Linked DNA regions of Homo sapiens. The protein of the gene in region 1 purifies or fractionates together with the protein of each later gene. This does not show direct contact. Each region holds a gene or a part of one and is shown in the gene's direction. Other genes may lie near its edges.

Region 1 (6,069 bases):
AGGCAGAGTTATGGATCAGTGGATGCACAGCAAACAAAAGTGCCAAAAAGGACCTCAGTGGCCCTCCCCATCCACAAACAGCCTTGCCAGAGAGTGCTGGGGCCATAAACTGGAATTCTATGGTCCAGGTTGATTCTACGCCAGTCAAGGAAAATTAAAAGCATCATTTGTACGAGCTGTGCTGATTCAAGTAGTCTAATTGCATAAATTGTATCATCCCTGCTTTGTAGATTAAAAGACTCAGACTGGAAGAAGTTATTTCACTTGCCTAAGACCATGCAGCTTCCAGTAGGGCAGCTGTGGCTCTAAACAGAGGTCTCTCTAGACCATGTTGTCACCAGTAGGTTCAGTTTAGGCTGTCACTGTGGAGTCTTGGAAACTGGAAGCCCACAAGGCAGAGGCCTCATTGGTCTTGTTTAGGATAGCATCAGTGTCGGCCATGTTGCAGGTGGCTGATTACCACAGTCTAAGAACTGATTAGAACAGCAGCTGTCACCCCTGACTGCTCGTTAGCGTCCCCTGGGGATGCCCCTGCCTCACTCTGATCAATCAAGTCAGAGTCTCTGGGGGCAGGTTCTAGGCATCAAGAGTTTTTATAACCAGCCCCCTACCACTCCCTAGGTAATTCAGGTATGCAACCAGGATGGAAAAACCACCTGATTAAAGGCAATCTGGTCTCCACTGTGCCACTAAACTGCTCTTGTCAAGGCCACCAGCAACCCCGATACTGGGAATCAGAAGGCTCTTCTGACCTCTTCGGAGGCTACCTCTCAGCAGCAGTTGATACAATTAACCAACATCTACTCCCCTTCTTGAATCAAATTTCTTTCCTGTGACCCCCGAACTTATCTGATTTTCCTGCCTCACTCAACTCTCCTTGCTAGTGACACCCCCTCTTCCAGGCTGCTAAATGTCTGTGAACCCCTGGCAGCTGTCCTGGCCCTCTGCCCTGTCTACCTGCTCATGCACACCGGGGGCTTTAAAACCATCCACAGGCCGGCCACTCCCAAACGGATGTCTTCAGCCCCAGATCCCCTTTATCCAGTCGCCTACTTGGCACCCACACTTGGACAGCCCCTAGGCTACTCAGGTGTAAGGGCAATCTGTTTCTCCAGTATTACCTGCCTAAGCTAATAGCATCTCCATTTTTGTTAGTCAAGCCTCAAACCCAGGAGTTGGCTTTATTCTTCTCTTTCCCTCACCTCGCCCTTCCCCGCCCCATATTTTTTTCATCATTTAATCCCAGTGGCTCCACCTCCACAGTAGAGAGCACAATCATTCACTGCTGTCTTCCTACAGCAGCCACCTTCATCGCTCACCTGGACTCCACTAGCCAGCCACCTGCTTCCACTCTCTTCCCCTGTAATCTTGGCTCCACAGAGAAGCCCTAGCAATCCTCGTCACCAGCAATTACATCATGCATCTCTCCCACTGAAAAACCCTTGGAAAAGGTTTCATCTAAGGATGAAAATCTTACCATGCCCTCCCATGTCACATCAAAAGGGCTCAAACTCACTCCGTCCTTAGCCCCTTCCCGGGTGACTCCCTGGTTTATGTTGTTCCAGCCAACCGGCCTCCTGCCTGCTCTGGGAGTGCACCAAGCTTACAGGGCTTAGCATTTGCTGTGGCTTCTGCCTGGGACTCTCCTCCCTCAACCCTTCACATGTCTGCCCTCTTCTCATCTTTCACGCACAGCTTCAGTGCCATCTCCCAGAGTCATCTAAACAACGGCCTCCTCTGTCACTTGAGTCGCTCTCTCCTTACACTCCTATCTGCTCCTCTCACAGTGGTTTTCATTTCAATGGCCAAATTATTGGTTTAATTCTGTTGTTTTATTAGCAACTCATTCACCATTTTAAAGAGGCAAATCCCTAACAGGGAAATTGTAAGTTATAAAGCAGCCCAAGTCCATGGCTTCCTCCAGGTCTAGAGAGCTTCCCACCCAAAATACAAAAACAGAGAGGGGGTGAGGCTGAACTCACACCAGGCAGCTCATTGGCCACTGAGTGCAGCACCTTGCAGCAGCTGGAGCCCCCAGCAGTGTGACTCCTGCAACAGAATGGGCCCCCACCCCTCCTCCAGACATCCCGAATGTCCATGCTGTTGTCCATGTAACACAATGACTCCATCATTATCAGTAACATGGTTAATGTGGACTCCCGTCAGCTGGGGATGGAGTGGCCAGCCTCAGCCTCATGTAACCCATTGTTTCCAAAGGGCTGCAGGCTGCAGAAGCCCCCAAGCTCTCAGGCCAGCTGTGGCTTCTTTGCTGAGATGGAGGTATAGCCAAGAAAGCAGCCTGAAAAGTAAGGACAGAAAATCAAGGCAAAGAGGGTGGGTGAACCAGGCCATACACGTCGGCCATGCAGCAGCAGCCCATCTTTCCCGAGGGATGGACTGAGGGCTTGGCTACTCCCCTGACCATAAATGGCTTGGCCAGGGTTCTCTTGGAGCCACCTCTCAGCCTGCCTCTGCAGCTTTGTCAGTTAACTGTTCCTACAAATGAAAGACACAAGCCAATAAAGCCAGTGAGAAAGGAGCTTACCAAAGGCAGTGTACGAAGAAGGTTCCTGGGAGACTGTCAGAAATGGTGAGTGAAAGCTGGCATCTCTTCTCAATCGAACTTTCATTTCTTACTATAAAAAACCTCCAAATTCAATTAAATGTACAATGAAGTAAAGGGACTTTATTTTAAATTATTTTCCTATATGCAAAATACCAATAATTTTTTAAACTTCTCACCTAATATTTGCTGATCTTGTCTTTCATTTTGGTATTAAGGTTTGTTTTTAAAACCCCACATACAAGAGTACAGAGTAGATGTTTCACCTATGTTCCCTTTCTAGTTGAAGCAATGGATCTAATCAACGATTTTATCTGTCTTACTTGTTTAATCTGGCTTTTTGTTCCATCATCAGCAACATGGATGGTCATCATTGATCAGAAATTTTCCATCTTTCTTGTTTACTTGTGATAAATATTTTGTTGTGACTCAATCAAATGAAGTTTGCTAAGTTAGAAGAGAAAACAAGAGGGTTCTGTGATTTACTAAAGAATTATGGAAACAGCCTAGGTGTCCATCAGTGGATGAATGGATAAAGGGACTGTGGTTTATATGTATATATACAACTGAATATTAGCTTTAGAATAGGAGGAGACCCTGCCATTTGCCATGTTTGTCCTATTTGGACCTGGAGAACATTATGCTAAGTGAAATAAGCCAGACACAAAAAGAAGAATATTGTGTAATCTCACTTTCTTGTGGAATTTTTTTTTTTTTTTTTTTTTTTTTTTTTTACAAAAAGCATTGTTAAAAGGAGTAGAGCTCAGTCTGTGGAGTTAGGGAGATCTGTGATCTAACCTGATCTCTACCACTTAAAAGCTGGTGAGCAAAAACCTATCTTGGTCTCAGTTTCCACAGGTATAATATAGGAATAATAGTGCTCCCTTCATGGGGAGGTTGTGAGTATGGGGTCTTATACCCAGCACACCTTCAACAGCAGTAAGTTTTTATCCTGTCTCTTCCTCCTTCCTCTCACAAACTGCAAACTTATAATGAAGGACGTTCAGCCACTGAGATCCCAAAATGCCTTCAGAATCATTGTGTAGATACTGCATAGTGCTCAGACTAGCAGTAAGCAATAATTGCATTGTATCCAATTCTAGTACTTTGACTATCACTAACTCATGCTTGCAATTCCATTCCACAAGAACTTTCCTATCCTTAGCTCTGTGCTGGCCAGGCCATAAAGAATATGCTACCACGTGATCCCTAAAACACAGAGGGTGTTTTACAGTTTGGGAGAAAGGAGCTGCCACAGATGACATTACGGTATTCCCTTGTGAAGTGGGCAAGGCAAGTTAATAGTATCCCATTTTGAGAATGGGAAAACTGAGCCTTGGAGAATAGATTTGTTGTGAGAAAATGGAGACCAGAGGGTTTGAGTGACTTATCCAAGACTACACAGCTCCTAAGTGGCTAAGTGTGGGCTCGAATTTAGATCAGGTGGCTCCAAGCTCAGGGTTGCATCATCCCACTCAGCTGTGTCTCTGAAGGGCACTGCATCAGATTCTTCTCCACCCTAATTTGTGCGATGTTTTTCTCTCCATGAGAGCACTGTACTGTGTTTCTACAAAATATGAGTGTCTTTCTGAAATTGGCCAAAATCTCCGTCATCCGAATGTTGATAAACAACACATGCAATGGCCCACTTGTTGCTGCACCCCCTCTTCTACTGTCCTCCCAAAGGAAGCTTTGTCTTAGGGCTGCTGACATCAGTCCTCAGTGCCCACTGATGAGATAAAGCTCTGGGCAGCTGCATTCAGTGCAGCGACCATCCAGTGTCCTTGCAGCACGTGTTGGTCTGGTGCTAGCGTGAAGAGCAGTGGTTAGGTCCCTTGAGCAAGAGGACCCTGACCTAAGAGGCCCAGACGTCCCTGTGTTCCACCGTCATCCCAGAAGCAGAGGTGCACAGTGCTGTCAGCCTGGGTGCTCTGATTCATCCACAGAGACTACTGGAGTTGCTTGGAAGCCTTGCAGAGTGGTGGAAAGAGGTTGTCACCGGGACACTCAGGTTCTGGTGACAGCTAAGTAGTTGTTTGGACTTGGGAAACCTGTTCAAATTCTTGAGGCTTGGTTATTCTCTATAAAATGCGGGTGTCCTATTGCCAAGAGGGGGAGAAGTGAGCAGAGGCACCACTGAAGCGTGCTAGTTGAGCAGGGCCACGTTGATTGAAGGACATAATATTTGGGGCAAAAGCTAGGGGGACTTACACATTCTAGGTGCTTAAAACACTTCTGGTTCACAAAAGATTTTCTTGTTCATTAACCCATCTGAATTCCAATCCATCAGTAAGTCAGCTGAAATAGGTGTTTTGTCAGTTTGCTTCTGTTGGGATGAGATCCTCTGTTACCATCTTTCGGGTTGGGGTTGAGTCACATAGACTGCGGCCCATTGGCTGGTCTATGTGGCTCCAACTGTTCTCATTTGTCCATGAGGTGATTTCTGATAAGTCCCTGGGTTTCAGTTTCCTCTGCTGGAAAATGAGGGTTTTGAGAGAGATGATCTTTCAGGTAATTCAGGTGTGAAACATGATTCTTTTGGATTCTTTAATGTTTCACAACTTTCCTATTGTTGGATAACATTTAATTTTAAAACTTAATGAATGCATTGTTTCTACAATGACAGAATCTGGTCTTGGGATGCTGGAAAGACGGGAAGCTGTGGTGTAGACCAAGCCCAGGGAAATATCTGGGGGTCAGGGAGACCGAGGCTGAAGGAGGGCCCAGCCAGGAGGTATTAATCCAGGGTGGCTGGACCCAAGGGGCTGAGAGTCCAGAAAGTGGGAACAAGACCACTTCCACCCAGGGAAAGAGGGGAAAATAGTTTCACTGGCTGAGTCAGAACAGGTCCACCCATCATTCCAATCTAGGTAGGGAAAGGACTTGGTAAGGAGCAGCCTGGAAAGGCTAGAGTAACAGGGGCTAGGGACAGGGAGGAGAAAGGAGCCACCTGAGGCCCTGGGCAGGCTACTTGGTGCTCCACTGAGCCCACGATCTTTAAATTTGGACTCCATATTTGCGGGAGAGGTGAGACCATCTACTAAGTGAGGGGAGGAAAGAGAAGGGTTTGCTGTTCCCCTGTCCTCCTGGCCACTTCAGCTCCAGCAACCTAGAACCTCTGCCTCAGTTGTAGCAAAAACAGAAGCCTTGCCTTCCCCGGGTAAGGATCAGGTGTTCTTGTTAGACCATGCCCTTTGGGGGTCTTACCTTCTACTCCAAGGAGAAAACACAAAATACTTCTAAATTCAACAGTTTTCTGTCTCAAAGGAGTTCTAGAGGGAATAAACATAATTTTAGCCTTTTGCTGAATTTCTAGTCATGTGTTTGCTGCCCTTGTGAATGGGACCCCTCAGACAATAGCCTTGCAGGCTGCCTCTTCATCTGATCCTGGTCGAGGACCTGGTTGGGGGCGGTGGCAAGACTGACTTGATGCTGAGGGAGGAACTCATGACAGGCTCCTTGCCTCCCCTTCCTTCTTTTGGGGCCAAGACTGTGCAGGACGATGG
Region 2 (5,297 bases), on another chromosome or scaffold:
CTTGCCCTGTTGCCCAGGCTGGGGTGTAGTGGCACGATCACGGTTCACTGCAGCCTTGAACTTCTGGGCCCGAGTGATCCTTCTCCCACAGCCTCCCAAGAAGTTAGGACTACATGTGCATGCCACCATGCCTGTCTAATTTTTCTATTTTTTGTAGAGATGAGGGTCTCCCTGTGTTGCTCAGGCTGATCTTGAACTCCTGGCCTCAAGTGATCCTCCTGCCTTAGCCTCTCTAAGTGCTGGGATTACAGATGTGAGCCACCATGCCCTGCTTCTTTCTTAATTTCATGCATATACTTCTGAGGGTCCTTGGCTTCCCAGAAATCATATGCAGAATATAGCATATATTTGCTTTTTTCCTAGATAAAGACTCTGTTGGGTGATCACATTCTCAAAAGGATATGGGTCTGTAAAAGATTATGAACTTCTAGATATAAAATTAAAGAATACATATTCCATATTTGGAAAGCTAAAATTTTTAAATTACATTTGATGATTTATGTCCTTCATTTCTGATTATGCCCAAGAAATGTTTGTGATTAAGAGTTCAGCACATAGACGTTGTTTCTAACACATTCTCATTTAAATCGAAGGAAAATATTAATCCCATTTTACAGATGGGGAAATAGAACAAGTTGTTTTAAAGTCATACAAACACTGGTGGGCCAACATGTGAACCCAGACTGTCTGAAGTTAGAGCCAGCATTCATAAACAGGGTATACTAGACTTTGATCGGTAATACCATTTGATTGATGTTAAAATAAGTAATTGATGTTTTAGTTAGAATTGCAAAGTATATCTGAGATTATCATAGCATACAATATCATAAGATTTTAGAGCCCTGGACCCCCAGTATGAAGAGATCTTAATGATACTAACCTCTGTTAATGATGCTAGTCTGAAATCACACCCGAACTAGGGTCATTTCTACAGCATCTTTGGCAGGATCATCCACCTCTGATTTTAGTATTTCCTGTGATTACGAATTTCCCCTCTTCTTTTTTTTTTCTTGACCTTTTTTTTTTTTTCTTTTGAGATGGAGTCTTGCTGTGTTGCCCAGGCTGGAGTGCAGTGGCATCATCTGGGCTCACTGCAACTTCTGCCTCCCGGGTTTCGAGAGATTCTCGTGCCTCAGCCACCCAAGTAGCTGGGACTATAGACCCTCGCCACCACGCCTGGCTAATTTTTGTATTTTTAGTGGAGACGGGGTTTTACCCTGTTGGCCAAGCTAGTCTTGAACTCCTGAGCTCAAGTGGTCTGCCTGCCTCTGTCTCCCAAAATGCTGGTATTACAGGCGTGAGCCACCGTGCCAGGCCGTTTTTTTTTTTTTGTTTTTTTGTTTGTTTGTTTTTACATTTTAAATCTATATTTCTATTTATGTCGAGTCAAAATCTGCCTTCCTGATATTTACACTGATAAATCCAGTTCCCCCTTGGTGTGTGTGGTGTATTTATCATCCATGAAATGATTAAGAAATAAATGGCGACCGGGCATGGTGGCTCACACCTGTAATCCCAGCACTTTGGGAGGCCGAGGCAGATGAATCACCTGAGGTCAGGAGTTCAAGACCAGCCTGGCCAATATGGTGAATCCCCGTGTCTACTAAAAATACAAAAATTAGCTTGGCCTGGTGGTGTGCACCTGTAGTCCCAGATGCTCGGGAGGCTGAGGCAGGAGAATCGCTTGAACTGGGGAGGTGGAGGTTGCAGTGAGCTGAGATGGCGCCACCGCACTCCAACCTGGGTGACAGAGTGAGACTCCATCTCAAAAAAAAAAAAAAAAGAAATGGCTCCTACTTTAATTTTTTAGAGTAATGTTTATTGAAGCATAATTTACATGTAGTGAAAGTAAAAGTTTAACAAATGTCTATAATTGGATAGTCTCCACCACAGTCAAGACATAGAAAAGGACGTTTCCGTTACTCTAAAAAGTTCACTCATGCCCTGTCATGAGTCAGTCCTCTACCTCTACACTCCCAGCCCCTGAAAACCGTTAATTTAATTGATGCTCTTAAAGTTTTATCTCGTCTGGCATATATAAATGGAATTATACATTATGTAGCCTTTCGTGTTCCCTTGCACTTAGCGTAATGCTTGATATTTATTAAGTTGTTACATGTGTCAGTATTTTGTTCAGTGATGTGCTGGGAAATGTCTTAACAACATACTCTTCAGAAAAAAAAAAAGAATCTCTGATTTATAGCATTCGCTAATCATTGTAGTGTAAACACTGTCACTATGGCCTAAATTAAGCTACCAGCTTACAGAATTCCTGAAAATTTAACAATGGGCTCCCATGAGCTGGTACCAGCCAGCTCCAGCACAGTTCCTTTTTTTGTTGAGTAACATTGTTTTACACCAGGGTAACACAATTTGTTCATCCATTCATAAACTGATGGACATTTGAGTTGTTTCTAGTTTTGATCAAATATGAATAAAGCTGCTATAAACATTTGCATACAGGTCTATGTGAGGGACAAAAATGTTCAGTTTTCTTGAGTTAATACCTAGGAGTGGGATTTTTGAGTCCTAGGATAAGTGTATATTTATTAATATCAGTAACCTTTTTATTGAACTACTGAATTGTTTTCCTAAATGGTGATATCATTTTACATTCCTACAGCAATATCTGAGAGTTTCAGTTGCTTTACATCTTTATCAGCACTTGGTATTGTCAGTTATTAAAACTTTAGCCATTTATTATATGTGTAGTGATCTCCTTTAAATTTTTTTACTCTTATTTTCAGTAGTGTTTAGACTCAGTATAGAAAGTTTATGATAGATATTTATAAAAAAATAATTTTCTTTAGCTTGGGCATCAGTTATGATCTCACTATGAAGGCTGCAGCCTTTAAAGGCTGTTTGTTGAGTTTTTACTGTGCACTCATCTTTCATGTTGTTAAAATTACTTTTTGTAAAGGAATAATCATTAGGGAATTATTCTAATGCTTAGCTGTTAGCAATTTAAAAAATGAACCATTTTAAACAGGTAGATAAAGCTTTGTTTAGAAAATTAGAATTAAAAAATTTATCATAAAGAATTTTTTTTTTCAATTTTACTTGGACTTAAAGGGAAAAAAAGATTCTTTGTGGCTCCCTGTATGCCAACAATTTGCTTTGATGGGATTTCACCAAGTTCTGTAAACTCATTGAATTGTTCTTTATTTTAAAATCTTGAGGACTGTCAAGTTAGTTACTACTCTTTCTGAAACCACAGTATCAAAATCTTTTTTTTTTTTTTTTGAGACAGAGTCTTGCTTTTGTCACCCAGGCTGGAGTGCAGTGGCATGATCTCAGCTCACTGCAGCCTCCACCTCTCGGGTTCAAGCGATTCTCCTGCCTCAGCCACCCGAGTAGCTGGAATTACAGGCATCCGCCACCACGCCCGGCTAATTTTTGCATTTTTAGTAGAGACAGGGTTTCACCATGTTAGCCAGGCTGGTCTCGAATTCCTGACCTTGTGATCCGCCCGCCTCGGCCTCCCAAAAGTGCTGGGATTACTGTGCCTGGCCAAAATCTGTCTTTGAAATTTCACGTAGTTTTAGTGTGGACAAAGGATTAAATTACACATAGCTCATATCAACATTTAATTTTCAGTAGTAGAATACTGGGTTGCCCCGTTGGAATAAGATATCATTCATTCAGAAGATGATATGAAATAAAACCCTTAGAAGAGTAACCTGCCAGTTGCAGTGGCTCATATCTGTAATCCCAGCACTTTGGGAGGCCAAGGTGGGTGGATTGCTTGAGCTCAGAAATTCGAGACCAGCCTGGGCAACATAGTGAGACCCCTTCTTTTTTTTAAAATAAGAAGAGTACCTTGTAAAATACATAGTCATGTTAGACTGTAAATAAGAATAGCTATATTCACAGTTTGAGTACCCCGTAATAATGAAAGATGTTTGTTTAAACATCTCAACAGTTCTCACGGAAAATAGATAATTTGTTCAGTCATTGATTCATACATTTGTTCGTATACATACACGAATGTCTTGTGCATGTAGTATTCAAGGTCCTTATCATGATAGAGCTTACAGTTGAGTGGAAGAGACTGTTGAATAGGGTATCACATACGTGAGGTGTGGATGCTGTAGGTAGGTACATATGGTGTGGAGGTGGGGTGGGCATGGAACTCAGACTTCAAAGTTTGGAAGGACTTCCAGGAGGAAGCATTGTCTTCATTGAGAAATCTGGAGGTTGAGTAGTTAGGGGAAGTGGCTGTGTAGCATTAATAGAATGTGCAGTTATCCAGAGATGAGAGAAAATGCAAATAGCAAACATATCAGGAATATTATTTTCAAATAACAGGCCTCTAAAGCCTACATTTATTGCCCCTACCCAATCTCAGTTGAAATTAGGAAGGTTAATGGGAAGTAAAACTAGGGTAAAAACCAAAAAAACAAACATTTACTATACTATTGAGGTATTTTTTGGTAGTTTGCTTATTTCTAACATTCATAGACTGACATAATTCGATCATATTATCTTTGAACTCATCCCCAGATCTTGTAAGAAGCGTTAATATAGATAAGATTATAGCCTTCCTTTTTTAACATTTAGGCTAATTCTCATCTAATACTGTAATGTTTATTCCTAGTTAAGTGTATTTGATTTTTATTGCTGCCATGAAGTTCATCAAGTTTTGTTTGTGTGACAAGTATTAATGACATCTGAACCACTGATTTTTTGCTGGGATATGTCCAACTGCTGGTTTAGACATATCTGCTGAGATATTTACACAGGCATGTCAACCTCAGCATGGCCCAAATGTAACTCATAATCGTTCTTCCAAAATGTATTTTCTTCTCCTATCTCCTCAGCTTGAGTAAATGCTGTTAGCACCTGTTCTGTCACTAGATTGAGACTGGCAGTCATCATCCACTCCTCAGTCTTCCTCACGTCTCACATTTAATTAAGCATCAGGTCCAGTTGTTTTTATCTTCTAAATGTTTATCATTTTCAACCTCCACCTGCCAGAAGACAATTTTGGGGCCTGTATTTCCCTGCTGAAGTATTAGAGAGGTCTTTTAAATATTCTACTTAACTGCAGTCTCACGTCTTCTCATAGATTACCCTCACACTCTTTCCAAAATGAATTGTTTTTTGTTTTAATTTTTTAAAATGTGAAATTGTGGTCTTTCCAGTATACCTTTTTTTTTCTGCTTAAAATTCTTGAATAGATCTTAAGTCATTATCAAAGAGGCGCTAAAACATGGGGTTGCAGTCTATAAAAAACTCTTTGTAACCTGGCTCCAGCTTCTCCAGTCACATCTCTGACAGCCATTCATTTGTTCATT

The links. Proteins that work in one complex are often made in the same cells at the same time.
Region 2: the proteins of OPALIN (region 1) and WDFY3 purify together in Homo sapiens (co-immunoprecipitation; 2 studies listed by BioGRID and IntAct, with this or other methods). This does not show direct contact.

What each region holds. Positions count from the first base shown.
Region 1 is NC_000010.11:96,355,415-96,361,483, reverse strand, and holds the start of OPALIN (opalin), read left to right. Parts: upstream 1-2,481; 5' UTR 2,482-2,587; coding exon 2,588-2,590; intron 2,591-4,324; exon of another isoform or gene 4,325-4,574; intron 4,575-6,069. UniProt on the Homo sapiens protein: Central nervous system-specific myelin protein that increase myelin genes expression during oligodendrocyte differentiation. Promotes oligodendrocyte terminal differentiation.
Region 2 is NC_000004.12:84,959,162-84,964,458, reverse strand, and holds part of WDFY3 (WD repeat and FYVE domain-containing protein 3), read left to right. Parts: intron 1-5,297. UniProt on the Homo sapiens protein: Required for selective macroautophagy (aggrephagy). Acts as an adapter protein by linking specific proteins destined for degradation to the core autophagic machinery members, such as the ATG5-ATG12-ATG16L E3-like ligase, SQSTM1 and LC3.